Linked DNA regions of Homo sapiens: regions 2 and 3 are each linked to region 1. The links come from fine-mapping of genetic effects on gene expression. A gene starts in region 1. Each other region holds a variant in brackets. All regions are shown on one strand. Distances are between the middles of the regions.

The links.
Region 2: its variant is fine-mapped to the expression of TENT2 in whole blood (INTERVAL, PIP 0.92).
Region 3: its variant is fine-mapped to the expression of TENT2 in whole blood (INTERVAL, PIP above 0.99).

What each region holds. Positions count from the first base shown.
Region 1 is chr5:79,607,401-79,617,569 of GRCh38, reverse strand. TENT2 (terminal nucleotidyltransferase 2) reads right to left here and starts at 5,129. Exons shown (of 15, transcript NM_001114394.3): 1 at 4,495-5,129. LOC124901014 (a long non-coding RNA gene) reads left to right here and starts at 5,233. Exons shown (of 2, transcript XR_007058840.1): 1 at 5,233-5,428; 2 at 5,550-6,099. RefSeq lists an enhancer at 4,325-5,524.
Region 2 is chr5:79,702,746-79,712,914 of GRCh38, reverse strand. All of the region lies in intron 1 of CMYA5 (cardiomyopathy associated 5), which reads right to left. Among named protein-coding and RNA genes, the nearest start is that of CMYA5, 18 kb to the right of the region's middle. The variant C/T (reference allele first, on the strand shown) is at 4,555.
Region 3 is chr5:79,643,293-79,653,461 of GRCh38, reverse strand. TENT2 (terminal nucleotidyltransferase 2) reads right to left here. Exons shown (of 15, transcript NM_001114394.3): 8 at 8,270-8,339; 9 at 4,769-4,845; 10 at 4,272-4,400. Among named protein-coding and RNA genes, the nearest start is that of TENT2, 36 kb to the right of the region's middle. The variant C/T (reference allele first, on the strand shown) is at 4,501.

The DNA of each region.
Region 1 (10,169 bases):
TCAAATTAGAATGGGAGGATGCAGGGCTTCAAGAAGATATCTAAGAAAAGAAAAATCAACTGGTGGATTATCTGATGTATTTGACCATAGAGATAAGTTCTGTTAACAGAGTAGAAATAATTTTAGAAATACAGAAAAGTAGCTAGTTAAAAATAAATTACCAAAGAAAAAAACACTCAATAGGTAATATAAAAAAGGCAATATAATCAGTTACCTGATTCTTACAAAGAATGAATATACTGATTTTTTTAAAACTGAGTTACTATATAAAATTTATTATATATTATTTATATATGACACTACCTTATACATTTGTGTTTATATATCACAAGTTTTATATGGAGGATGACAAGAGGGTACAAAAAGTGCTAAATTCTCATTTTCAGTAAAAATAAATCAAAAGAATGAACTATAGAAGCTTTATTCTTTTTTCTTTTCTTTTTTTTTTTAAACAACAGAGTAAAGTAAAACTAGGTAGCCAGAAGAATTGAAGTAGCTGCCTCTGGGGATTGTGACTAGGAGGGCTGGAAAAACTATGAGAGACAACAGGGGAGAAAAAGAAAAATCTGGGAAGAAATTAATAAATCCCTCACAAACATTGTTCCTTGTTTTTTCAATTCCATAAGATTAAAATTCCCTAGGTTGGCCACAGATAACAAGGCTCACCAGTCCAGGGTTCATAACAGATTGTGGACAAAATTCTATGAACCATCATCAGACCTCATCCTAAATGCCTGACTCTAATTTGGACCAGAGACAAGGTTAACCTCCAGAAAACAAGAGTCTGTCAACTTTCTTTAGCAGACCCTTATGTCTTTTTACAAGAGATTTTTAAAAAAGAAAATAATCCTGTCATATTTCCTCACCTGTACACCCTAGCTTCTTCAGAGGAAATGGAAATATCTTGAACTAAGCAGCATTCCAGGGAATCCCCTAGCAAAAATACATACAATAATCCTGGGCTGGGCAGTTGCTCATGCCTGTAATCCCTTGGGAGGCTGAGGCAGGCAGATTGTTTGAGCCCAGGAGTTAAAGACCAGCCTGGGCAACACGGTAAAACCCCATCTCTACAACAAATACAAAATTAGGCTGCACGCCTATAATCCCAGCACTTTGGGAGGCCGAAGCAGATGGATCACCTAAGGTCAGGAGTTCAAGACCAGCCTGACTAACATGGTGAAATCCCTACTAAATACAAAAAAAATCAGCCAGGCGTGGTAGCACATGCCTGTAATCCCAGCTACTTGGGAGGCTGGGACAGGAGAATCGCTTGTACCTGGGAGGCGGAGGTTGCAGTGAGCCAAGATCGCGCAATTGCACTCCAGCCTGGGCAACAAGAACAAAACTCCATCTCAAAAAAAAAAAAAAAAAAAAAAAAAATTAGGCCGGGTGCAATGGCTCATGCCTATAATCCCAACACTCTGGGAGGCCGAGGTGGGCAGATCACCTGAGGTCAGGAGTTCGAGACCAGCCTGGCCAACACGGCAAAATCCCGTCTCTACTAAAAATACAAAATTAGCTAGCGTGGTGGTGGACACCTGTAATCCCAGCTACTTGGGAGGCTGAGGCAGGGGAATCGCTTGAACCTGGCAAGCAGAGGTTACAGTGAGCAGAGATCGCACCACTGCACTCCAGCCTGGGCGAAAAAACGAGACTTCGTCTCAAAAAAAAAACAAACACACAACAAAAATTAGCCAGGTGTGGTGGTCTGCATCTGAAGTCCCAGCTACTCTGGAGGCTGGGGTGGGAGGATCGCTTGAGCCAGGGAGACGGAGGTTGGAGTGAGCCGAGGAGACTGTGCCACTGCACTCCAGCCTGGTCAACAGAGCAAGACCCTGTCTCAAAAACAAAAAAAAAAAAGAAAAAAGAAAAATCTTGGATTGCCAGATTCAAGACTGGCAACGAACACTTTTCACCCTTTGCTCAGGCTCACACTCCTTCTTGGCCTTTTTTACTCTGGTTCCCTAACCTAATTTCCCATAAAACATAGGATCCTACTTCATAGGATTTATGAGAAAATGATATTAAATACAATTCACTGTAACAAATTTTGCTTGATAGTTCATTTTGTTGGAATAGACACTACAAATCTAGTGAATGGAAGAAATATGTATTCAGAAAAACTAGAATTAAAATCTTGTACTTTCAGGTTTATTTAAATCGGTTCATAGCAAAAAGCCTAGATACTTTTGTTTATACCTATAAAAAATATGCTGTTTTTCCTCTATAACTGAATAAGGTCCATGTATATTAAGATTTGAAGATGCAAAATGACATCAAGAGCCCAGGCCTCACCTTGTTTTCATCTCTTACACAGCCAAATCCAAACTAAGTCTAAAGATGACTTGTGGCTCAGAACTACTCTACCAAGTTAATGACCAAATTATCCCCAGCTTAAAAACTTAGATTGAGTCCACAGCCAGATGTTTAGTCTAGGGCAGAAATCTAGTTTAGCATATTCCAAATTCCCAGAAATATATCAAGCTCTGGAGCCCCTGCAAAACAAAGGATCTGTCAGCCTCTCCTCAGTATGAATTTTGGCCCTCAAGTCAGGCTCTTTTTAAAGAAGGTAGGCTTCAAGTAGAGGAAAATCATTCCGACGCATTCGTTCTATGCTCACCAATATAGGTATTCTGAAAGACATCTAGAGTTGAGGAAGTAAATGAAACGCCTATGAATTTCTATGCCTTTTTCTAATACATTTCACATTGATTTTGATGAAAATAAAAATGACATCAAAACAATTATCATAAACAACATAATCATTTTTTTAAAGAGACTGTAGAGTTTCACAAAATACAGTAAAACTATTACTGTAACAGAAATAAGGGGACCTCCACAAAATTTTAAATCATTTTCTTCATACTCTGAATGAAAGGTTTCTTAAGTAGAGATTAGCTATATAAAACGTTACTCCACATTAACTATGGTCTTCTACCATCTCCTATGTGACAAATTTTATGATAGATACATAAAATCCAGATATTGGCAATATCCAATTTTCCTTACCTTAAAAGTTATCAGTTCCACAATCTGTACTTGACCATGAAAGAGTATACTGGTACTTTCTTTACGGAGAAAACCTTAAAGACGGTTTCCTAAGGTGGACCCAATGGGAAATTACACAGGTTTACATGAGACAAGGTAGTAAAAGAGTAGATTAATTCGGCCGGGCACAGTGGCTCACGCCTGTAATCCCAGCACTTTGGGAGGCCGAGGCGGATGGATCACCTGAGGTCAGGAGTTGGAGACCAGCCTGGCCAACATGGTGAAACCCTGCCTCTACTAAAAATACAAAAATTAGCCAAGCATAGTGGCACGTGCCTGTAATCCCAGCTACTCGGCAGGCTGAGGCAGGAGATCGCTTGAACCCAGGAGGCAGAGGCTGCAGTGAGCCAAGATAGTGCCATTGCACTGTAGCCTGGGTGACAAGATCAAGATTCCGTCTTGCAAAAAAAAAAAAAAAAAAAAAAAAAAAGATTAATTCCTAGTAATTTCTAGTTATAAAGTATTTGGTCCTGGAATTTGCAACCTGGAATTTCTGTCCTCAACTTGACCTCTCCTCCAACAAATTAGAGAACACTCAAGGTTATATATAATTCCTTCATCAGGATTCTTTAGAAAGCAGAATATACCTAGAATGAAAACCAGAAATTTACTGGCTAAACCAAGATACTGTCCATTTTGTCCAAATACCTTTGATATCTCAAACCCACTTTTCTCCACAATACGAAAAATCCAGTTCCTAAATCCTGCCAACCCACTGTGAAAACTACTTCCAGGTTTTGAACAGGATATTCCTTTTGGTTAAGAATTAAATTACACCCAAGTGTTCAAAAAAATAATCTAGTCACATGGCTCCAAATGGGCATTTCTTAAACAACTCATAAACGGCCTATTTCACATGGAACCTGTTACAGGACATTTCCAGAACAGACATAATTAGGGCTATTCACACCAACAAAGTAACGTCACTATTACTGGCTATTAATCAGTATAAATTAATAGCCTTATGGCTGTTAATCAGTACGTGTTAGAAGCCTGGTGGTACTGAACCATACAATATGAAGATATTTACAAAAGTTACTATGTTACCTGTAATATAAAAACACAGATTTAGTAATCAGTTACAATCTCTTTCTTCACAAAATCATACACTGCACATGTGTTATTTAGCTTGTGTTTTACAGTTTCCCTTTGTTTCTTCTCTGTTCACCCTAATGAAAAATATCTGCTACTTTAAACAAAGAGTTGAAAGAGATAAGACAAGTAATTTAGAGAATCCATAAGTTTTGAGACATATAAGCCTTTCGTGTTCTCACCTTGAGAGACGAAGAGCTTTTCTACAAAGGCTGAACAAGAAAAGAAACGCACACAACAGTCTTAACCTGTGCATTTTCCTATAAAGTGAAAAGCTGAAGCAATTTCATGCCATTTAATTAAGGCTTAAAAGATAAATGCCTTTTAAATTTTTTAATTAATCCAGCTACGTACCTTAGTTCTTCACCACCCTTTGAAACACCATGCAAGGGTCCCAAGACTATCTTCCTCTTTTGGTCCTGGAGTGGTGGACGAGGCAGTACGCGAGGAATAGAAAACGAGTAAGCAAAGTAAGCGGTCCTAAGATTCTTCAAAATGTACAGCAGCCCAGATGCCGCCCATAAATTTGGAATAACCAAGAGATACTGCTGGAACCTCCCACGCAAAACAAAACGCTACCGTTTCGGAAAAGTTTCCCGTGCCCCGCCGCCGACCTGGGCCTACACTGCTGCGTTCCTCTCCGAAACCCCCTAAACTCACAGGTGTCCTCCGGGAAGGGCTAAGCAGGGCCTACCCGCACTGCCCGTTCAGAAGTTCTAAGGCCCGAGCTGGGCGTACTTGGTCGTAGCTTTCTCCCGAACCAAAGGAGGTAGTGGTGGCCCGTGGGACAGCTAGGCCCAGCTCCGGCTCCGGCTGAGATCTAACCCCCCTCACGGCTGCCAGGGGAGGAGCAACACAAGAAAAGGTAGGGGCTGCAAGGATATAGAAGGTTGGGGGCGGTGGCAAAAAGCGGAAGAGCAAAAAGTCGCCGAAAAAGCGGCGTAGAAAACCCTGTCAAAGACACCCGGAAGACCGACGTGACCCCGGATGAGAATAGGCAGCGGGGAGCGAAAGGTCACACTTCCGGTGGCCGCCTCCCTCCCACCCCCCAACCCCCCCCACCCCCCAACCCCCCCCACCCCCCCCACCCCGCCTATGAGCGCTTTGCTTGAATGCGCAGGCGCAAGACAGCCGGATTTGAAAGGAGTTTCTTAACTGCTGCCAGCACAAGTTGGGAAAGGGTTAGGACTGCACTAAGAGGGGTGGAGCAGGCAGTCGCCGGAGGGCCACTTCTGGGCCCCTTGCCTGAACTCACGTGCAGCCGTTCTAGCTGTAACAGACGTTTTCTGTGGGTCCTTCGTGTGTTGGCCGAGTGACTTGTCCCCAGAGAAGCCTTTCTTTAACCAGTGTTCCCCTAATCTTCTCCCCCGGAGCAACATTAAACTTTATCTGTTCTTTTGCCCCTCCAGTAACCTGAGAGCTTCTTTGGAAGGAAAATGCTTTCTTTGGCCGGACGCGGTGGCTCACCCCTGTAATCCTAGCACTTTGGGAGGCTGAGGCGGGCGGATCACGAGGTCAGGAGTTCGAGACCAGCCTGGCCAACATGGTGAAACCCCATCTTTACTAAAAATACAAAAATTAGCCGAGCTTGGTGGCGTGCGCCTGTAACCCCGCTACTCAAGAGGCTGAGGCTGGCGAATCGCTTGAACCCGGGAGGCGGAGGTTGCAGTGAGCCGAGATCGTGCCACAGCACTCCAGCCTGGGCGACAGAGCAAGACTTTGTCTCAAAAAAAAAAAAAAAAAAAAATGCTTTCTTTCTCTCTAAAGCCTGGACTTAGCGCCTTGCCCATAGTAATAGCTGGTATTCACTAATTCAACAAATATTTATTGATATCGCCTCTTGAGTGAGCTTTAATAATTTGTAGAAATGTCTAAATTGTTTAATAATGCAAATCTGTTAGCTGTATTCCTTTATTGTCCACTTAATGTCTATAAAATCTGACCCCTCAGGTTCTGAAATTGGTAATTTGTGTGTCATCTTTTTTTCTGATCGATCTGGTGAGGGGCTTCTCGGTTTACGGATCTCAAATCTCAAAGCCCGTTTTTGCTTTCTTGGATTTTCTCTACTGGTTTTCTGTTTTCTATTTTATTGATTTCTGCTCTTATGTTTATTGTTTCCTTTACTCTGCTATTTTTTAATTTTTAAATTTCTTGTTTTGTTTCTCTAGTTTCTTAACTCAGAAACTGATGACCATTAATTTTAGATGTCTCTTGTTTGTACAGGCATTTGGTGTGATAAGTGTCCCTCTATACTGTTTTAGCTACATTCCACATATTTTGATATATTGTATTTTCATTTTCCTTCATTTCAAAATACTTTGTAATTTCCCTATTGCTTTCTTTTTTTGACCATGGGTTTTTTGTAAGTGTTGGTCTGCAAATGTGGAGGAGTTTTCCAGGTAGCTGCCTGTTACTGATTTCTGATTTAATCCCATTGTGATCAGAGAAGGTACTTCGTACACTATTAATAATTTTAAACTTATTGACACTTGTTCTGTGGCCCAGAGTATATAGTCTGTCTTGGTAAATACTCACTGTGCATTTGAAATGAATGTGTTTTTTGCAGTTGTTGCATGGAGTGTTCTATAAATGTCAATCATGTCAAGTTGGTTGATATTAGTGTTCAAATCTATATCCTTTCTGATTTACTGTCTACTTATTCTACTAATTATTGAGAGTATTGAAATTTCTGACTATTACTGGTTTTTTTCAATTGTAGTTCTATCAATTTCTGCTTCATGTACTTTGCAGCTCAGCTATTAGTTGCATAAACATAGTTATTCTCTTATTTGTATGAATTTATCCTTTATGAAAGTTTCATTATTATGAAATTATCCACTTTACAAATGACCCTCCTCTTTGCTGATAATGTTCTTTGCTCTGAAGTATATTTTGTCTGATAGTATTACAGCTACTTAGGCTTTCTTTTGTAGGGTGTTAACATGGTATATATAAGGAAAACATAATTCCAATTCTAGATAAAGTCCTCCAAAAATTGAAGAGGAGGGAATACTTCCCAGCTCATTCTGTGGGGCCAGCATTACACTAATACCCAAACTCTAGATATTAAACAAGCAAACTATGGACCAATATCTCTCATAAACATAATATGCACAATTCTAGTCACTTTTATTTCACAGTATATAAAAAAGATAATACATTATATCCAAACAGGTGCTTATCCTAGGAATGCAAGGTTGAATTAGCATTGTATTGACCATAAAAGAGTATACTGGTACTTGCTTTACGGAGAAAACTTTAAAGACTGTTTCCTAAGGTGGACCCAATGGGAAATTACACAGGTTTACATGAGACAAGGCAGTAAAAAGTAGATTATATAAAAAAGATATATAAATATATAAATACATAAAAATATATAAAAAAGATAATACATTATAACCAAACAGGGGCTTATCCTAGGAATGCAAGGTTGAATTAGCATTGGTAAATCAAGCAATGTAATTTACCATATTAACAAACTAAAAAAGAAAAACCATTTGATAATCTCAATACATGCAGCAAATGCATTGGACAAAATCCAGTATCCATTCCTAAGATTACAAGGAAACTTCCTCAACTTGATAGAGAGTGTCTATAAAAAGCATCACACTTAATGGTGAAGAACAGTGCTTTCAACTTAAGATCAGGAACAAGGCAAGGATTTCTGCTCTGACAACTTATGTTCAATATTGTACTGGGGATTCTAGCCTGTGCAATAAGGCAAGGAAAAAAAAAAGGCATTCAAATTAGCAAAGAAGGAAGTAAAACTGGTTTTATTTGTTTTATTTATTGAAAACTCTGGCACAAAATCTACAAAAAACTATCAGATCAAATAAATGACCAAGACTACAGGTCGTAAAATCAATACACAAATGTCAATGGCATTTGTAGTACACCAGCAATAAACAATCTGAAATTGAAATTTAAAATACCATCTACAACAGCATCAAAAATTTGAGGCGGGCATGGTGGCATGCACCTGTAGTCCCAGCTACTTGAGAGGATGAGGCAGAGAATCACTTGAGCCCAGGAGTATGATGGCATTATGATAGGTCACTGCAGCCCCAGAAAGAGAATGGAAAGACAAGCCAAAAACTGAAGCAGCTATTTGCAAATCACGTATCTGATAAGAATGTGTGTGTGTGGTTGTTTTTTTTTTTTTTTTTTTTTTTGAGATAGGGTCTTGCTGTGTCTCAAAAGAGCTGGAGTGTAGTGGCATGCTCACGACTCACTGCTACCTCGACTTCCCAGGCTCAAGTGATCCTCCCACCTCAACTTCCTTAGTGCTGGGACTACAGGTGTGCACCACCATGCCTGATTAATTATTGTATTTGTTATAGAGGATGGAGTTTCCCCATGTTGCCCAGGCTGGTCTCGAACTCCTTGACTCAAGCAATCCACCTGCCTCAGACTCTCTAAGTGCCGGAATTACAAGTGTGAGCCATCATGCCAGGCCCTGGTAAATAATTTATATCCAGGCTGGGCAAGATGGCTCACGCCTGTAATCTCAGCACTTTGGGAGGCCGAGGTGGGTGGATCACAAGGTCAGTAGTTCGAGACCAGCCTGGCCAATATGGTGAAACCCCGACTCTACTAAAAATACAAAAATTAGCCTGGCATGGTGGCAGGCGCCTGTAGTCCCAGCTACTTGGGAGGCTGAAGCAGGAGAATCACTTGAACCCGGGAGGCAGAGGTTGCAGTGAGCCGAGATCACGCCATTGCACTCCAGCCTGGGTGACAGGGCAAGACTCTGTCCACAAAAAAAAAAAAAAAAAAAAAAAAAAAAAAATTTATATCCAGAGTGTCTATTTTTTGAACTCTCATACCTCAATAGTAACCCAAAAAAATGGGCAAAAGGTTTGAAGAGACATTTCATCAAAGAAGCCATATATGGATGACAAATAAAGGCATGAAAAGATATGCAACATCATTAGTCATTAGAAGAAATACAGATTAAGAGAAAAATATAAATTAAGACCTCAACAACATACCCTACCTATTTGATGGTAAATTCCAAAAGACTAGTCATACCAAGAATTTGTCAGAACATAGAGCAACTGAAACTCATACACTACTAATGGGAATATGAAATGGTACAAGCACTTTGGAAAAAACTTAGGAAGTTTCTTAAAAGGGTAAGCATACATTTATTTGCATATGATTCAGACATTCCATCCCTAGGTATTTACTCAAAAGAAATGAAAGCACATGTCCACAGAAGGACTTGTACACAAATGTTCATAGCAACTGTATTTGTAATTACCTGTAATCCCAACCCTTTGGGAGGCCAAGGCGGGAGGATTGCTTGAGGCCAGGAGTTGGAGACCAGCCTGGGCAACTTGGCGAAACCCTGTCTCTACTAAAAACAAATAGCAATCTCAGCTACTAGGGAGGCTGAAGAAGGACAATCGTGTAAGCTTAGGAGGTGGAGGCTGCAGGGAGCTGTGATTGCACCACTGCTGCACTCCAACCTGGGTGACACAACAAGACCGTGTCCCAAAAAAAAAAAAAACAAAAAAAAAAACCTAAAAAACCTGTAACACAAATACCCATTAACAGGCAGATGGGCTGAGAGTGGTCACACCTGTAATCTCAGCACATTGAGAAGCCAAGGTGGGAGGACTGCTTGAGGCCAGGAGTTGGAGACCAGCCTGGCAACACAGTGAGACCCCCATTTCTACCTATACCAGGAGTATCCAATCTTTTGGCTGCCACACTGGAAGAAGAATTGTCTTGGGCCACACATAAAATACAATAGCTGATGAGCTAGAAAAAACAAAATTGGAAAGAAAATATCATAATGTTTTAAGAAAGTTTACAAATTTGTGTTGGGCTGCATTCAAAGCTGTCTTGGACCATATGCAGCCTGTGGACTGAGGTTTGGACAAACTTGCTCCTACCTCCTAGGGAGGTTGAAGAGGGAGGATTACTGGAACCCAGGAGTTTGAAGCTGCAGTGAGCTCTGATTCTACCACTACAAGCAGAGTGAGACCCTATCTCTAAAAACAAAACTAAAAATAAATTTAAGA
Region 2 (10,169 bases), 95 kb before region 1:
ACTAAGAGACAGAGCACTTCATCTGAATAGAATATGTCAGGTTGGGATCTTTTTTAAAATAAACCAGTGAGCCATGATAGACTTCTCCCCACCTGTTACACTGACTTTTTTTTCCTAATACAATTATAACTCCATAAAAACATGAAGTATGAGGGCAAATCAGTCCAAAAAGTAGAAGAAATCTGATCAGATTTCCTTCATGGCCTTCCAGCAATTTTTTGTATTAAATTTGCAACAGAGAAAGAGCCCTTACATTGTAGCCTTGAAAATAATAATAGTAATACATTTAAAAATAAAGCCCAGCTCATCTATTAGATGGAATCGGGGTTTGTCCATATACCTAATATAGTGTTTGGCAACACTTTTTTTTTTCTCTGTCATTTTTTAAGAAGAAAAAAAATAGGCCGGGTGTGGTGGCTCATGCCTGTAATCCTAGAACTTCGGGAGGCTGAGGAGGGTGGATCATTTGAGGGCAGGAGTTCAAGACCAGCCTGGCCAACATGGTGATACCCCATCTATACAAAAATACAAAAATTACCTGGGCATGGTGGTGCACACCTGTAATCCCAGGTACTTGGGAGGCTGAGGCAGAAGAATCGCTTGAATCTGGGAGACTAAGGTTGCGGTGAGCCGAGATCACGCACCACACTCTAGCCTGGGCAACAGGCCAAGACTCCAACTCAAAAATAAATAAACAAACAACAAATAAATAAATAAAACACCAATGTCTCACTCCAGCAGATGCTCCTGGGATGAACAGGGATAGGTGAAGTACATCCCAGCCCTGGAGTTTCAGGAGAGAGGACCCCTTTGCCTGGTGCCAGCAGACAGACTTGGGTGGCAGTGTGTTGGTTCTCCGGGCCTGTTTGGATAAACCTAAGAGAGAGTCCTCTGGAGGCCCAGTGATGGCACTCTCCAGCTACGGAGAGAAGCATCCTTGAGATACTGCTGTACCATATGCGAAGAGGGAGTGAAGATGGAAGGGGATCATACTGAAAATTGTGATTGAAAAACAACCATACACGTTCTCTTCAATTTCTGGGTGCTCCTCCACTGAATTTCAATCTAGGCCCACAATTAATGCTGCCAATAATTCATCAAGAAAAATTAATCATTATATTATGGTTACTGACAAATCCTCAAATATTTTCTGCTGGATCAGCTCTGGATGATAACTTATTAGCGCCATTAACTTTGTGTTTTCTTCAAGTACAGTATTAGAAAGTATGTTCTTTTGTGCATACATAAAATGTTTAGAAAATTTCCCAGCCCCCATTTTTTTATTTATTCTCAAACCAATGATCTATAAGGGTATATGGGAATCTTTATCTTTTTTTGAAAGTGGTTAATTTCTTTCTCCAATGTAGCCTTTGCGACCTGAAAGATTCATTTCTCAAGAACATAATTTACAAAGTCTGCTAACAAAACCTATATTGACAATTAAACTTTGCCTCTGTCCTCTTCAACTTTCCAAGCAATTGTCTACGTAGTTTACATTCTTTTTCTCTCTGTACCACCTTTAGTGGCTATTCCACTTTAGACAAATTCTGCCAGGTACGGTTGGTGGCAGGGGTGCCTGATCCCTCTGAAGTTGAAAGCAGATCAGCAGCAGCCTGGCTATTGGTGGAGCTGCCAGTGAAAAGCACCCAGACGACCTACCTGATGGACCCATCATCAGGCTCAAACAGCACCACCAGAAAAACACAAGAAACCTCTTACCTAAAACATAACCAACAGTAAAATAGAACTTATAAAAAGAAGTCTCTAAAATTCCACAGGGGGAAAAAACAAAGAGATTAAGTAAAATCCTTACTGATACATTAGGAAATAACTTGCTAGTAGCCTTTTGATTTCTGACTTGTAAAACCTCAGAATTGGAGATTCAATAGCTTTGTTTTTATAGAGGACTGTATTGGAATAAGTTAGATTATTGGAAAACTTTGCATCCCCAAAATCATTGTTATAAGACTATAGCACTTACATCTCTTCAGGAGTTCTAAAAATTAAGCTGAATTTCCCATAAGATTCTCTTATTAATCACCCACAAAAGAGAAAGACAGAAAAACCCACTAAAAATGATGTGCATTTGATCCAGTAAAATGTTTTAAAAACCATAATACAGACCACCCTTGTTAATACATTTTGCCCCATTCCTCAGTTGAACTCAGGGGAAAGTTCAAGATTTTTAGGTCCTACCTGTAAAAATAAAAAATTTTTCTAATAACCAAATATAAATTTCACTGTAGGATATATAGGAAAACAGAAGCACACAAAAAAAGAAAATTAAAACAACCAGTAATCCCAGCACTCAGATGACCACTTTTAATATATCAGCATTCTTCATTCTTAATCTATCCTGAGATGTGCCTCTTTTACACAAATGATATGTTTTGTAATGTGCTTTTTTTAAATTAAAAAATACATTCTGAACATTTTTTCATGCTATTAAATATACTTTTCCACAACAACTATTCTCAAAACTTTTGGTCTCAAAACTACTTTATACTCTTAAAAATTATTGAGGACCTCAAAAAGCTTTTGTTCATGTGGGTTATATTTATCAATATTTAGGGTAGTAGCAATTAAAACAGAACTTTTAAAATTTTTATTAATTCATCTAAAAATCGTAATAATAACCTACTACATGTCAACATCAATAACATATTTTATAAAAAGTTATTTTCCAAAACACACAAACAAAAACATTTAGTGAGAAGAATGACATTATTTTATATTTTTGCAAATCTTTTAAATGTTTGGGCTAGCAGAAGACAGCTGAATTCTCACATCTGCTTCTGCATTCAAAATGTGAATATGTACTGTTAGTAGGAATATATAAAGAAAATCTAGCCTCACAGAGATATGTAGTTGGAAAAGGAAGGAGTAATTTTTAGATAATTCTGGATATTTTCTTTTTCTTTCTTTCTTTTTTTTTTTTTTTTTTTTTTTTTTTTGAGATGGAGTCTCACTCTGTCACCCAGGCTGGAGCTCAGTTGCATAATCTTGGCTCACTGCAGCCTCCGCCTCCCGGGTTCAAGCAATTCTCCTGCCTCAGCCTCCCAAATAGCTGGGATTACAGGCACACACCACAAGGCCCAGCTAATTTTTTTTTGTATTTTTGTAGACACGGGGTTTCACCATGCTGACCAGGCTGGTCTCAAACTCCTGACCTCAAGTAATCGGCCCACCTTGGCCTCCCAAAGTGCTGGAGTTACAGGCGTGAGTCACCACGCCCAGCTGATATTTTCTTTATACCACACCAAAACTTAAAAAGTAGTCGTTTTTTTAAAGATTAGTTGCAATGTGGACTCTGAAAAAAAAAAAAATCAATGAGCTTTTCATCCTCTATACAGTCATGAGAGAATGAAAGTGGAAAATGCAAATAATGTCTTAGAACTACTATAAAAATAGTTTGGATCTTGTGGATGCCCTGAAAGAAAACCATACTTTGATCACTGATCACTGCAGTTCCACAACTTCCTATTTAATAGTTAACATAGCATTCCATCATGTAACACTTTCTTTACCCAGTACCCTGTTGTTGAACATTTAGATTGTTTCCAAGTTTCCTCTATAATAACTCTGATAAACATCCTTACAGATACATCTTTCAGCACATTTTTTTTTCTTAGAATAATATGGTAGTAGAATTTGAGACTCAAAAGCAAAATAATTTTTTCAGGCTTTTTACACATATTGACAGTTTTCCCTCCAGAGAGGTTGATTAATTTGCATTCCTATCAGTAGTGTGTACGAGAGCCACACATTCTTACCCATACTCTTAGCAACACTGGGTACCATGTGAGCCCTGCCTTGATACCTGTTTGTAGAAAACCAAAGTGTCACTGAGCCGGCTCTTACCTCACTTTCTTCTCTGAAATACAATACTTCAGATTTACTGGAATTCAGCAGAGTACTTCTCTGGTAACTACCATTTTTAAAAAACTAAATTAAATTAAATTTAAAAAAAATTGAGACAGGGTCTTGCTCTGTCACCCAGAGTGACAGAGTGGAGTATGGTGGCGTGATCTCAGCTTACTGCAACCTCCGCCTCCCAGGTTCAACCGATTCTTGTGCCTCAGCCTCCGAGGAGCTGGGATTACAGGTGTGAGCCACCACGCCTGGCTAACTTTTTTCTGTTTTTAGTAGAGACAGGGTTTTACCATGTTGGCCAGGCTAATGTCGAACTCCTGTTGATCTACTCACCTCAACCGCCCAAAGGGCTGGGATTACAGGAGTGAGCCACCACACCCAGCTCCATTTTTTAAAATGTTACTTTCTTTTTTTTTTGAGATGGAGTCTTGCTCTGTCGCCCAGGCTGGAGTGCAGTGGCACAATCTCAGCTCACTGCAAGCTCCGCCTCCTGGGTTCACGCCATTGTCCCGCCTCAGCCTCCCAAGTAGCTGGGACTACAGGCACCCGCCACCACGCCTGGCTAATTTTATTTTTGTATTTTTAGTAGAGACAGGGTTTCACTGTGTTAGCCAGGATGATCTCAATCTCCTGACCTCGTGATCTGCCTGCCTCGGCCTCCCAAAGTGCTGAGATTACAGG[C/T]GTGAGCCACCATGCCCGGCCAAATGTTACTTTCTATTATTATGATTAGTATTTGCCATGTGTCTTCTACTTAACAATAAGTTTCTTGAGACAGAAACTATGTGTCATTATCTTAATATACCCCACAGTGCTAAGTCCGTGGGATAGAAACAGCATGGTAGAAATAGCATTTTTGACTTCAGAGCAGCCTAGGTTTAAATCCTGGCTTCATTACTTATTAGCTATGTGCTATGGTCTGAATGTGTCTCATAAAATTCATATATTGAAACATAATCACTAATGTGATAGTATTAATAGCTGGGGTCATTAGGAGATGATTAAGTCATGAGGATGGAGGCTTCACAAATGGGATTGGCAATCTTATGAAAGAGGCTGAAGGGAGCACTCTAGGGCCTTTTGCCCATCCACTGTGTGAGGACTCAGCAAGGAGGTTCAAGCCCTCACCAGACACTGAATCTGCAGTGCCTTGATCTCAGACTTCCCAGCCTCCAGAGCTCTGAGAAATAAAGTTCTGTTATTTCTAAATTACTCAGTCTTAGGTATTTTGGTATAGCAGTACGGACAGACTAAGGCACTGTGTGAGCTCAGGCAAATTACTTCCCCTTCCTTTCCGGGGCTTGAAGGTCATCATTAGTTCAACAGGTGGCTCATATCTACTTTATAAGGTAGTTATGTGGAAATGATATGTAAAACATCTCGTGTCATACTAGGCAAATGACAAATGAAAATATTTTTCTTCTCTTCCTTTTCCTTTTCAGTGTTGAATTAACCTTGTGAAGTCCAAATTTTGAAGATATGTAAACTCACTTTAATTTATTAATAAGCCTATAATTAAGCCAAAAGGTACCTCTTTAATAATGATTACCTCTGGAAAGTGTAACTAAGCAAAATTAATATGTCTTCTAATTATTCTTCCCTGTATCATTCATTATTCATTGAATTCATTGATTCATCATCATTTATTATTCATTAACTTAGTCAACATCTTTGAGTGTGTATTATGTGTTCAAAAGGCAAGCTACACACAGTCCTTAAACAAATAGAAATGTAAAATGAAATCCTTTCTAGTGCTAGAAACATTCATAAAGTTATGCTGAGTGGGCCGTTCCAGTTGTATGTCTCAGTGGCTGCAGGTGCATCATTCCTGGCTCTATTCTGTTCAAAGCTGACAATTCTTGCAGTGGGGCTTTAACACTCATCATTTAGGACCCTGAAATGTATTCAAATACTAACTAGAAAGCTTTAACATTTTCCAACAAGCCACACCAAGAAAATTAGAGAAAAGACACTAGTGAGGATAGGTGCAGTCCACACTGGAGTTCACACCTAGTTTTGATTTAAAATTAAAACGAAGCAAAAAAACTAAGAAGAGTTATTTGTACATCTAGGAGTGCAGCTCAACTAAGGGTGCAGGGTAAGGAGTGCTGGCTGAAGAATAGCATTGCTAGAAATGGCAACATGAACCTAGGAAACAACTCATGTTCAGTGTAGGGAGACCCCCTGAAACTATTGCTACAGAATAAAAGATGAAATGCTCCTGATTATTGTAAATACAAAATTGCATGCAGGACTGTGTAAAGACAATGCCAGGTTGCACTGCCAGAATGAGCCAACAGCGCGTGATGTGCTTCCCCCCACAGAGAGCCTATGAATGGACGTGCAGTCAGGGAGGTTTCACATCACCAAGATTCCTATCCCAGAAAAGCAGATGTTCATAGCTCTGGGAATGGAATGAGACCCTTGTGGAGAGCCTATAAACGGACGCATGAGGGGCACCTGTTCATATGGATAAGATAGGGCTATAAACGCCCTGATCTTGCCATGACTCTTCTAGGCCTCTTTAGGGTTAAGGCGTACTCCGTTCTGAGAATTTCTGGTCTAACCGGTTGTCTAGCTTCACGTCCTGTTTCTATGGATTGTTTGTAACCAGCTTTTGCTGCAACTGTTACTGCTGATTAATATCTTGCTAATCACAGGTTATGGAAAGACTGTGCTTCTGTTTTAAGGCTCTGTTAGAAATTACAGATGCACACACTATATTGTAAATTCTTATCTCTGTATACTGTACTTCTGCATACAGATGTTATGTTAAAGAATTACTTCATCCCCATGTGACCATCTCACCTCATAATCAAATGACCCTAAATCCCTCACTAACCTACCCCCGCCCTCACTAAACTTAATAATAAATGCTGGTATATCCAGCACATTGGCAGCATCGCAGGACCAGAAGGCGGTGACTCCCCTGGACCCAGCTTTCATTATCTTGCGTGTGTCTATTATTTCTCGACCTGCCGATCCACCTGGGAACAAAGAAAGAGCCCTGTTGCATTGCGGGCTGCTGGCCAGATCCTGCAATAGTTCAGGGTACTAGTAGATGATGGGGAAGGGAGAGAAGAGAAAACTGACACTCGTCCATGTCCCACTCTGTGCCAGGAACATATGATGTCCTTGTGTATCTCCATTCTCATTTACCCCCACAGGTACCTGTGAAGCAGGTAGCAGTACCTGCTTCTTTCAGAGTCTGAGGCTCAAAGAGGTCAAGTGGCTATCAACAGTGCATTCCAGAGAACTGCTAGTATTCAGTTCTCCAAGAGAACTCCAGGAGAGATTGAAAGAAAGTCCTAGACGCTGATTGGTGAGATCAAACTGAAATTGATCAAGACTTTTTCTCTACCAGCTCCTGGATGATATATGCTTAAGTTGGTGTTAGGTCAATATAGACCTTTCTTCAGGTCTGTAGCTCTGTTCAATCAAGTTTAAAATATTTGCAGTGGGAAGATGTGTGGGTGGGAAATAAAAGTTCTTTCAATTCTGAAGCAGGTTTTTAAAAATTTTCTGCAGGCATGTTGTGGTGATTAAGGACTAATGGTAGCTTTGGGTTTCAGTGTTAGGGTTATTATTGATGTCCAAAACATTCCTGATTGTAAAAAAAAAAAAAATACTATATCTATCTATCTATTTATAGTATTTCTGGACATGTTGGGCATAACTCCAGTTTTAAGGGGTTCTTTTGGCTAGCTCTGGCTTAGAGCACATGTGTTGCCAAGGCCTGCAAGAGAAAATTATTTTATTTTATTTATTTATTTGAGACCAAGTCTCACTCTATCACCCAGGCTGGAGTGCAGTGGCACGATCTCGCCTCACTGCAGCCTCCGCTTCCCAGGTTCAAGAGATCCTCTTGCCTCAGCCTCCTGAGTAGCTGGGACTACAGGCGTGCGCCACCACGCCTGGTTAATTTTTGTATTTTTAGTAGAGACAGGGTTTCACCATACTAGGCCCGGCTGGTCTCGAACTCCTGACTTCATGATCTGCCTACCTCGGCCTCCCAAAATGCTGGGATTACAGGCGTGAGCCACTGCGCCAAGCCAGGAGAAAAATGTTTAAAAGCTGTTAGAAATGTTAAGAAGGGGTTAAGGCACTTGTGGTGGTAAGGAACAAACTCTTTCAGGCTAGGTTAAATAGAGGGTTTTTATTTTAAAGAAATAGAGACTTCTCATAGGTTCCAGGGGCCAGAGGTATATTTAGGCCTCCCAGTGAAGGGGAAACAGGAAAACCATCAGGAGTCAAGGGAGCTACTCTATCTCTGATGTGTCAATTTGGCTCTGGTCTCTCCTTGTCTCTACAAGTATTTTCTCTCTCTCTCCCTCTTTCTCTCTCTTTCTCTCCCTCTCTCTCTCTCAACATAGCTATCCCCAAATGGCACCCTCAGTAACAGAAAATTATTTCCCAAAGAGATTAAGAGATCAACCAAGAACAAAGGCAGGGACTCCTGGCTTTCAGAAAAGATATTTTATTGCTTTTCCCTCTTCTAATATCTATATCCAAGAGAACAAAAATAAAGGGGTAGGAAAACTTCTGCTTGTTGGCATGACTTGCTTTGATGAAGGATGGAGCCTCTCCTGGGTGATAGGACCAGTTCGAATGGCTTTCAGACCCTTGCACACAGGGTCTGCTCACAGGATTCTGGTCGCTCTACTTTGGGTGAACTGTTTTAAGGTTTCAGAAACACACTTGAGTGTGATACAGCATTCAGACCCACAGTGGGGGTCATACCCTTTCCCTATGGATTGTCACCTCCCCACCCTTCTACACTCTGGGATTCCTGCCTTGACAGAGAGTTTTTATTTAGCATTAAATACCTTTTTTTTTTTTTCCTGGACACCATCTTAGATACCAAATTATGCTCAGCAATTTTAGCTAATATTCTTCTTTACCACATCTTGGACAGTTTGGACAGTTTCACAGATGTACATTTAGAATTTTTTTTTTAACACAGTCTCACTTTGCTGCCCAAGCTGAAGTGCAGTGGTGCAATCGCAGCTCATGGCAGCCTTGACCTCTGGGTTCAAATCGTCCTCCCACCTCAGCCTCCCAAGTAGCTGGGACTACAGGTGCGCATCACGATGCCCAGCTAATTTTTTAATTTTTTGTAGAGATGGGGGTCTCCCTATGTGGACAAGGCTGGCCTCAAACTCCTGGGCTCAATCAATCCTTCTGCCTCAGCCTTTCAGTGTTGGGATTACAGGCATGTGCCACTGTTCCCGGCCCTAGAATATTTTTTGACTGACAGAAAAATTAATAATTTTCAAGAAAAGATCAAAATAAAGTTGACTAGATCTCCAAAAAGTTGAGAAATGTCCCCCAAACCTCCAAGCTAACTAAAGAGAATCTCTGCCTCCATTTCCAACTTACCAGAGAAGACAATCTGACACTACTGGAGTCTGATTTCTCCCCTGAACCAGGGTCATACATACACTCTATTATAGCCCACCTGTGAGATGGTGACAATTCTCCAAAGGAGGATTACCCTAGGCATACAGACCAAAAGGCTTTAGAAGGAATTAAATTCCTGATAATAGCAAACAGTGATACGATCTCAAAGGAGTTTTGAAACCTCAAAGCAGAAATACCAAGGTGTGTAAGACAGGTCATATTGAGGCCAGAGTGAAAGACTTTTTTGTTCTTATTGTAAAATGGAATGTCCATGCTGGAATAAACAGTGAATACTCAGATTCAGCTGATATTTAATGGGGGAAAACTTCAACCTCATATGGTTTTATCTGTTCACTGACCTATGTTGTATTTTCAATTAAATTTCCTTGGGAAATATTAACTAGTTTATTCTATTGCTTAAACAAAGTGTTGTACATCCACAGAAATAGCAAAATATACTGCATCCTGTGTTAAATGATCTGAGGGTCAGGTAACAAAATCTGAAGAAAAGCCTAGCCCGGGGCCCCCTGCTGGTCCAGCAGACATCTGACATCCAAAAAGACAGTTGAGCAAATGATCTCTCTTCCCAGTTGGTGAATTCCCCACCTTGGGGGGCCTGGGGAGACAGAGCTGACAGCACCAGATACTCTCCTAGTGAAGACCTTCACATCCGTTTTTAGACCGACTTGAGAGCTACTGAGGAAAGAAATAGATGTGCAGCTCCTTGTTCTCTCTGGCAGTAGCAGGGGTCCCAGTTGCTGCAATATGGAACTGCTGGTGTGGATGTGGCAATAGCACAAATTGTGACATCTAGTGCCCCAGCCATGGCAACAGTTTCCTCACCAGATGATTTTTTAAAAACTGCTTTATTGTAGTATGATTCACATACTATAAAATTC
Region 3 (10,169 bases), 36 kb before region 1:
AAATGCAGTGGCATAATCATAGCTTACTGCAACCTCAAACTCCTGGGCTCAAACAATCCTCCCACCTTAGCCTCCTGAGTAGCTAGGACTAACGATATGTGCCACCATGCCCAACTAATTTTTTTCATTTTTTATTTTTGTAGATGGAGGAGTCTCACTATATTGCTCAGGCTGGTCTCAAACTCCTGGCCTCAAGCAATCCTCCCACCTCTGCCTCCCAAAGCACTTGGGATTACAGGCATGAGCCACTGTGCCTGGCCCTAATTTAAAATTTTTAATTTGCTTTCAATACCACATTGGGGCATCTGTGATTTACGTACATTTTTCTAAAGAAGTCAGTCAAACTTAAAATTTCTAAGGTAACCAGTAAGAATTAAGGAGTAGGGCACATATTATGGATGATCATGTATGCTAAATGCTTTAGTCAAATCTCATTTTTAAATCACAACTAAAATATAAATAGGGAATGGTGGTGCCACATATTTTTTATATTTTATATATATAAGAAATCCTATTCCATTTTTAATGAAAGTAAACTGTAACCCACAAGAGAACAGAGTTCACTGAAAAAAATATGTTAAGAGTTCACCTGAACATATATTATAAAGTAACATATATTATAAAGTAATATATGTTCAAGATTGACATATATTTTGTAAAATTGGACAAAAATGATTAATGACACAAAGTATTATCTAAAACAGCCAATGTCATATGTTTCAAATTTTTTTAGAGGGGCAAATCAATCATCAAACCAGTATATATTCAAGACTGGTCAGCAATAAAAATACATGTATTAAGATTAGCCTGAACTACTTTAACATTAAAGAAGATTATCAAACCTCTCTAATGACTGATTCATAAAATGATGGCCCATTTAAACTATTTTGTCTCTCTCGATAAGTCAAAAAAATCATTTGAGACCAGCATCCAAAGGAAAATATACTCTCATATATTATAAAACATCTGCAAGTATAGTGAAGTACAGAGAACTTTGCTAAACTGTCCACAAATAACCCTGATACAATTTTGGCACCTACCTTTTCAGTATTTGTATATATACAAATATATATACACAGTTATTATCTTTAAATAAAATTGGTATTATGATGTATGAGAATATATCATGAACATTTTCTTGTATCATTAAATATATTAAAAACATGATTGTTGGTGGCTATGTAGATCTCATATTAGGGTATATCGTAATTAATTTAACCATTCCCCTATTCTAGAAAATTTAAGAGTACTTCTAATCTTCTATTATTTACGTAACACCATAAAAAAATAGCTTTACATGTACATCCATATATGTACCACTCATTATTACGTTAGGATAAATTTCTAGAAATGAAATAACTGAGTCAAAGGACATGAACACAAATATACAACACTGCTTTCTAAAAGAGTTGTACCAAATCAACACTCTCAGCATGATTGTGTATTCCATTTTGTCATTATTAAAAACTGCCAATTTAAGAATATTAATCCCTACATCTGTAATACATGTTCAAGTGAAATTCTGTAAGTAACAGGACAGAGTATAAGATTATATTCTGTCAAGAATGTAGAATGCCAATTTCACCCTAGGAGTATACCATAAAACTTTGATTACCAAGAACGGACAAGGTTGACACACTATGAAATTAAGAACATTAACATAAACACTTTAGTCAAATAATGGCACCCTATCTCCAGACAAAGATGGGATGAAGATGTGTCTAAAGGTAGAATCAAGATTTTCTTGAGAACTAGCTAGCTCTAAGACTACTTCAATTAAGATAAATATGAAAAAATGCTCCCCAAATTCTCCACCATAGAGGAAAGGTTACTAAGCTGTCATAAACAAAAAAAATCAAAATGTGTGTGTGTGTGCCAAAAGTGGAAAGGGTGTAACAATCAGACTGTTTTGTGATGGTCTGTCCATTATTCTGAGATTATATCATTGCTTTTTTGGTATTTTATGCACCATCTTTTATGAAGTGATGGTAGTAATTGGTAGCAGTTTTTTGGTTCTAATACTTAACATAGCAAAATAAAAACTCCAGTTTGGTTCTTTTTTTTTTGGATATTACTTTCCTTGAAATCTAAAAGTCTGAGAATCATGTAATGAACAGGTAAAAGAAAATGTAAGAACATTATTTAAGAAGACCATGTTTTTGTAGAGGAAAAAAGAACATCCACCCTTTACAGTTATTTATTTGTCCCCAACTTTTGGAATTAAAAGACCTGAACTTGACATTTATGTATTTATATTTGGCTAAACATCTTGAAACCTTTGCAAAAAAAACAAAAGCCAGAAAAAATAAAACAAATATTAACAATAACAATTTTTGGGTGTGAAAATTCATGGGAAATGTATTTTTTTTCTGTCCACTTTAGTATATTCTCAGGATTTTCTATGAAATGTATACACAACTTATTCAAAATGAATTTTAAAATGTAAAATAACTTTTAATATCACTACGTTTTAAGTATTATTTTAAACATAATAATTCTGAAACAAAATAGAGAATTCCTGACAACCAATCTCACCTCTGAACTGCTCTTTTTTAAGGCATTGGTAAGACAATCTTTGTTTTTGTCCCAACCACTTCTATCTATCCTCCTATACTAGTAAAAGTGACTCACTATAAAGAAATTCTCAATTTGGGTATCATCCTCCAATCCCTATCCAAAGAAGCCCAGTCTACCAGGAATTAGGTTAACAAAATTGTAATCCCCAACCCTAACCATTTTTGATCTATAGCATAAGGAAAGGTGCCTTCTTCTTTTCCCAGTTCCCAGTATCCTCAGTACAGAAACACAGCTATAAGGGCATCAAATCATCTCAACTTTCCAAGCCCAAGCTGCTGTTGACAAAATTGCTAATATTATCTGTTATCCCTCTCAGAATCTAAATACAAGGAGCACCAAACAATGCAATAAAAGGATATTTTTCAATACTTTTTTTTAATGACTACACTGTAATAATTATTATTGAGCATATCACATGTTGATAGTGCTCTATCAGCAGCTCAATTCACAACCGTGGTAAAAATGTCACATTTTATTAGTAATCTGTGAGTTGTTTAATAATTCACGTTTTGGTAGGTAACAGCTATGAAAATGTGACATTTTACAAGTCAAAAATGTAAGCTTCATGAAGAAGGTAATTGTTTTTGTATGTTGTTCACTGCTGTATTCTCAGATCCTAGAATACCTAGCATTTATTTGGTAGGTATTCTATACATATTCATAGAATGAAGAAATGAGTATTATATATGCTAAAATATGTTTTCTCCTATTATTGTAATCTTTGGAAACCAAGACTCTAAACTGTGGAAGTATCACCAACCCAGAACAGATCAAGCCCCAGACATCCTGGCAAACGGTCTTCTACTACATTCATACCAAGTCTTTCACTCGGTCTTCATGTCACCACATATTCATATGTTCAGTTGGTTAGTTATTAAACATCTCAGTCTCCTGGTCTAATAACTACAAAACAGTAGATGCATCCATCTTTTAACAACTCTTGGTGTCAGGCTAAGTAGAAAGTATAAAGCAGCTTAATGTTTATTTCTTGGATTGCTACATATGTAAGATATTTTTGAGAAATATGAAAGTAAGGGTTTCAAATAGATCCAGTCAGTCTGTCCTATACGTCTAGGAAATTTTCAGTACCGTAAAAATTCTCACACTTATGAATGGTCCAAATTACAAGTGTTCACTTATTACTGTTTGCCACTATGCATGCGACAAAAGTATAGCTTTTACCAGAATGGCCTCATAAACAATGACTAACCAGACAAAATTAAAATTTGGGAGCCAATCTGATAAAACAGCCCTATGAAGATAAAATCTAGTTAAGGAGGGCAACTCAGAGATTAAAAGCTTCTTTAACCAACAGGAAAATAATTTAATTCCTGTCTCAAATTCAAAATTAAAAATATGATGAATAGTACTTGAGCTAACTTTTATAGGCCTTTTGAACATTCGTCTGCTTCAAGATAATGGGTCCACAATACAGTGGTGAAAGTTCTTTGAAAACAAAAGTGACTATAGAAAAACTTCCAAAAAATAAAAAAAAAAACAGTGAAACTTCTATATTTTCCAAGGAATAACACTTCTGAAACATTTGTCCAAAGCAACAAAACAGGAAATGTGTTTCATGGACCTTAGAAAGAACTTTTAAAACAATACTATTTGAAAATAGGGTCAACAGAGAAGACACCATAATAAAGCTGTCTTTTACTTTTAAAAATTGGGTAAAACCCCATTATACTTACTTTGTAAATAGTGCAAAACCATCAATACAAGACTATAGCTGCTTAAAGTACCACGACTGGCATCATTTATCTGATGGTGACTTGCCCACTTCTTAATCACCAGCACTAACGGACGAACTCGATTTTCAACTGAAAGTAAAATTAAAACTTAACATGGTAAGAGACGTTATAGTTTCTTTGAAAGTTTACATCATTTCCCAGCTCCATACCAAAACAAAGAACACTGTCT[C/T]CGTGTATATTAAACACTGTGTCTGTTCACTTTGTGTCTTATGTCTAAAACTTACCTTAGTTACCTTTTAAAAATTATCAATTATTAAAATGCCACTTGATTCACCTATAACTGACAGTATATGATTTTAGTGTAGCAACATATACAAATAAAATAAGATACACTATACTTAAACACAACTAAAGAGATGTCACTATTTATGCCAAACATCTTTAAAAATGAATAAAGAAAAAAAGGCTAATTTTTAATAAACAAACAACAAACTTACGGTATGCATAAGTTCTGAGAAGGAATGTGTTTCTTATTCCAACAATATTGTTTACATTCAAGTCAAACTCCACACAACTATTTAAGAAAAAATAAATAAATAAATAAACTTTAGCTGAAGAACAAAAAAACTTCCTTCCTAATAACTAAATTAATGCTCATCCATCCCATGATGCAAAATAGTATGGGCCCAAAGGCCATAGATCTGTGTTTTTAAAATGACACACTAAAGAAATAAGAATGAACAAATACTCAGTATGTTATTTCAATGTGATCTGATGAGTACTGAAAATATAAAATAAGATTCCAGTGGAAAGATCAGTAACATACTGCTAAGGCTCCAATTACCCCAAATAAAATTTTTAAATCTTTTTTTTTTTCTTTAAAGAGATGGAGTCTCGCTCTGTGGCCTAGGCTGGAGTGCAGTAGCACAGTCATAGCTTACTCCAGCCTCAAGCTCCTGGGCTCAAGCAATTCCCCCACCTCAGCCTCCCAAATCACCAGTATTATAGGTAGGAACCACCATATCCAGCCGAAAATTTTTAAATCTCACAAGTTTCCAGATAAACAAAACTATGTGACCAAAAACATTTCTGAGCAAGTTATCCCATTAAGTTATACACTCTCAAATAATCTGGAATTATAGCATCATATACTTTAAAACAACAGGAATAAAAAGCCAAATTAAATACAGGGGAAATAATTTAAAAGCTCTGTCTACACATTATATTTCCTCTAAAAAGGCTAGTAAATTACAGTATCATGTCAAATTTGGCTATTGATACCTGGGAAGAGCTATCTATACTACTCAAACACATAATGATTACTTCTTTGAAAGCAAATATATGCAGTTCATAATTTAGAAAATACGGCAATAATGATGCAATGTATAAAAAATGGCTAAACTCATAAAAAATTAAGGATTACTTTATGTAAGTCAGTTCTACTCATACCTATGCGAGATCCCAACTTCTAAATACTAATTTTTTCTGTGAAAAGACTGTCTAAAATAAAAACAAAATATTTCTATATTAATTATAGCTTTTAAGTATAAAATTTGAAATCTACCATTTCAGTCTTTCTTATTTGGTGGAACAAAAGAAAATCTTACAATCTTTCCATTATCCATGCATATTAATAAAAATGGATAGTAGTATTAACACTTCAGATATTATACGTTATTTGGCTTTGGGAAACTTACAGTAATAATAGAGTTATTCTTTGTGTTTGTGTAATTCTAACACTGAAGCCAATTTGTACTACATCCACATAGTAACTCAATAGAAAAGAAAAACACATAGATGGCAACTAGTCTGCAGTTAAAAATTTTTCCAAAATTGAATTCAGGGCTTTAAAAATATCCACAGTTCCTGCTTCAAACACTACTTCTAGAAATACTAAAAAAGTGATCCTCAATATGGAAAGCATTTATGCACAAAATACTTATTTATATTATCTAAAAACCAGAAACACACCAAATGTTCAAATACAGGAGAATGGTTAAGTTAATGACAATTTATTCACTCAATGAAATACTATAAAGCCATTAAAAATGATGCTGTAGAACACTATTTAATGATATAACCAAATATTCATGAGATATGGTTCTGTTGGGAAGCAGGATTTGGCCAGGTGCAGCGGCACACTCCTGTAATTCCAGAACTTTGGGAGGCTAAGGTAGAAGGATTGCTTGAGGCCAGGGGTTCGAGACTAGGCTGGGCAACATGGCGAGACCCTGTCTCTACCAAAAATACAAAAATTAACCAAGTGTGTTGGTGTGTGCCTGTTGTCCTACCTACTCAGTAGGCTGAGATGGGAGGATCACTTGAGTCCAGGCATTTGAGGTTACAGTGAGCTATGATCATGCCACTGCACTCCAGCCTGGGCAACATGGTAAAACCCTGTCTCTTAAAAAAAAAAAAAAAGCTTAGGAACAAAAAAAGTTTGCAGGATGATCTTAAATAGAAAAAGAATAAAACTACCTTTGTAACTATAACTACAACCATATATTATTAAAAACTTATAATTAGCTAATATTATAACTTTATGTTTTATCTCCCTATATATTTTATATCTGCTTTAGGAAAATCTGACACAATTTACTTGGCAGAAATTTAATAAGTATTTATAGATCTGATTGATGTTTAGATATATAAAGGAATGGCTTGAGCCAGGCATTAAAGTTTGTTTAAAATATATATATTCAGTCATCATTCATAGTAGCTACGTTCTATAAAGTTGCTGCAAACACTGAATTAGTGAATACTATACCATTGCTCCTAGGGTAAGCACAGGGTTAGGTATCTGCCAGCCTGGTCACATTTTCATAAACTCATCAATACATAACCAAGTTTTATGTTGTGCTTCTATTTGAAGACATTGTATTTAATATATACGGTTGATTCATTAACAGTGGACTCATGGCCAAGAGTACTATAACTCATGCCTGAGCGAAGCCTACCTAACACATATTTTCTCCATAGGGCACCATCACAGCCTTCTTGCACTTGGGGACACTAGAAAGTAACTCCACACTATGCTTGGGGGCCATTCTAAATAGCAAAAAAGCACAAAAATGTGAAAAATATGGCATTAATTAGACTGTGAGAAGGTTATTTGTTTACAGTATGAAGCTGAACAAGAAGACAGTGTGTCACCTAATTCTATCTCAGCTGGAAACATGGTATTGGGTGATCTGAAATTTTCATTACTCTGTGTATGTCCACGAAATGACCACAAAAGCGTATGAATATTCATGTAGGCAGTTACAAATAACTTTTAGCAAGTAGGCAAATTCGTGAAAACACAAACTATGAATGATAAGGATCAACAATGTGTGTGTGTGTGTGTTTGTGGGCACAATTTCAGTATTAATTTTGTAAAACTGGACAAATTTTATGAAATCTGTCACAATTCTATTTTTAGAAAACAGTAACAAATCAGTTTAACTAATGAAATAATCAACATCTATTTACAAAACAATTCCAATGCCCATAAGACATTCAGAACCCAAGCTGGTAGAATATATAAATGTAAATTTTGAAATGGAACAAGTATATTTTGCTGTTTTCCTTTCATATCTATTACTCTAGGTATTATATGTATCTTTCATAAAAATGAAACACAACTTGTTTAATCATAACTGTATTTAAAACAAACCCCTTGATATTAGTACATGTCAAATTTCATTAATTATATTCTTCAGAATGCATTACACTTCCAAAAGGCAAGAGATCATTTAAAAATCTAAAATACAAATATGTACTCTTTAAATTAGATAGTCTCACATATTCAAAATGTCAAGCAGAATAGCTAAGTACAGTTAAGCATAAAGTATTGCTCAATTTTAAAAAACCATTTCAAACACCAAGTCAAATGATTTCTAAAAACTGATTAAAATAAACTGTAATGCTACAACATACACTTCTTAATTATCTTTATCAGATGAGTATCTAAAAATGATCTAAAGGAACTAAAAAAAGAAAGCTCATTAATTATTTACCTGACTTTATCCCTGAACTTCACAATTGGCACTTTTGCTCGAATCAGCTGAGGTCTCTCAATGTAGCCCGCTGAAAGACAAAAGATAATGTGAATAGCTGCAAATGTTTCTAGAATTCACAGTGTTCCAACGCACATTTTTTAAAAAATAGTATTTACTAAGCTAAAATAATTTAAGAAAACGTCTTTGAAAAAGAATACAAGTGAGGACATTATCAAATTCTTCTAAGGTTGGAGGCTCCAGTAATACCATTTAGGGGGCTTTATATTAAGGTTATTTTCAGGAATGTGATCTAATATAGTATCTATAGAGAAGTTCATTAGACCACTGTAAGAGTGAAAATATATCTAGGCTAGCAGCAGAGGGAATAGCTAATTTTGGTACAGCACACAGTAAGGTATCATGGTAACTGTAGAAATCATAATTACAGAGTCTTATGTGTGGAAATGCTTTGCAACATGATACACGGGGCTTGGATGCATTCGATAAGTGTGATCTCTATGAGTGAAAAATACATATATTATATACATGATCTCTACAAGTGAAAAATTCAGATCAGCTTAGTGAACACCAATTATTGTGCTATTATACAAAGGAGTATGAGTTGATAGGAAATTCAAATACACATACAGATATGTATTACATACATACATATATCATATACAACATATAATAAAATGTACATACATATTTTTATTCCATCAAACTAAAAAATTAGAGTTGAAAGTAATATATACTTATCATAGAAAATTAGGAAAATACAGAAGTGTGTAAAAATGAAATTCTGAAAATCTTTCCCAAATGAGCAATTTTCTCATTTTTTAACTACAGAAAAAGTAGTACCGGGATTTTTTAAAACCTGAAAATTTTCTGTTACAATGTTTTACCATCAAAATTACAGAATATATATCAGCTGGGCTTGGTGGTTCACACCTGTAATCCTAGCACTTTGGGAGGCCAAGGTGGATGTATCACTTGAGGCCAGGAGTTCAAGACCAGCCTGGCCAACATGGCGAAACCCTGTCTCTACTAAAAATACAAAAATTAGCCAGGTGAGGTGGCACACACCTGTAATCCCAGTTAATCAGGAGGCTGAGGCATGAGAATCGCTTAAACCAGGGAGGTGGAGGTTGCAGTGACCTGTGATCATGCTACTGCACTCCAGCCTCGTGATAGAGCGAGACTCTGTCTCAAAAAAAAAAAAAAGAATATATCAAGCTTCAAAATAGAACTTATGAGCAGGAATTCAGAAAAATAAAATTAGGAGTTAAAAGTTTTGAGTAATAAGTACAGGTTCTGAGACCAACAAACTATACTCCAGGCAAGTTACTAAATCCATTGATCACCAGTTTCCTTAACTATTAAAAATAACCAAAAGAAAAAGAAAAAAAAATTCATGTGAATTACATGATCTTTAAGGGCCCTTCCATTTTTAATATTTTGATTCAAATAGCTATTAAAAATTCAAGTAGGTATGAATTATTCTTTATTTTACAGAATAATTCAGAATGCAGAAGGTCCACTGAAATAAATCATTTATTTCTCTCCTAGAACAGATGTAAGTTATTCAAAGACAGTGACTTGTTACTTGACTTGTACTTTCCAGCTCAAAGCCTGGCACATAATGAATGTCTGTTCAACAAATGGACAAGTGTCTTTCCAATATCACACAGTGTAACTTCAACTTTCTATAAAATTCTATGGAAGTTTAAAAGAAATTATTTGAGATGGCTTAACATGTGGATTAAAATATGTTTAGAGTCAGTGTATTCAAAAAGTAAAATCGTAAAATAAAATGGCTTAAGTCAACAATTAGCTTTCTGTTGAAGTAATACATTTAGGTCTCATGTTCAGTGATGATATTTTTAAAACAAGTAAAGATGCATATCATTGCAAGCCA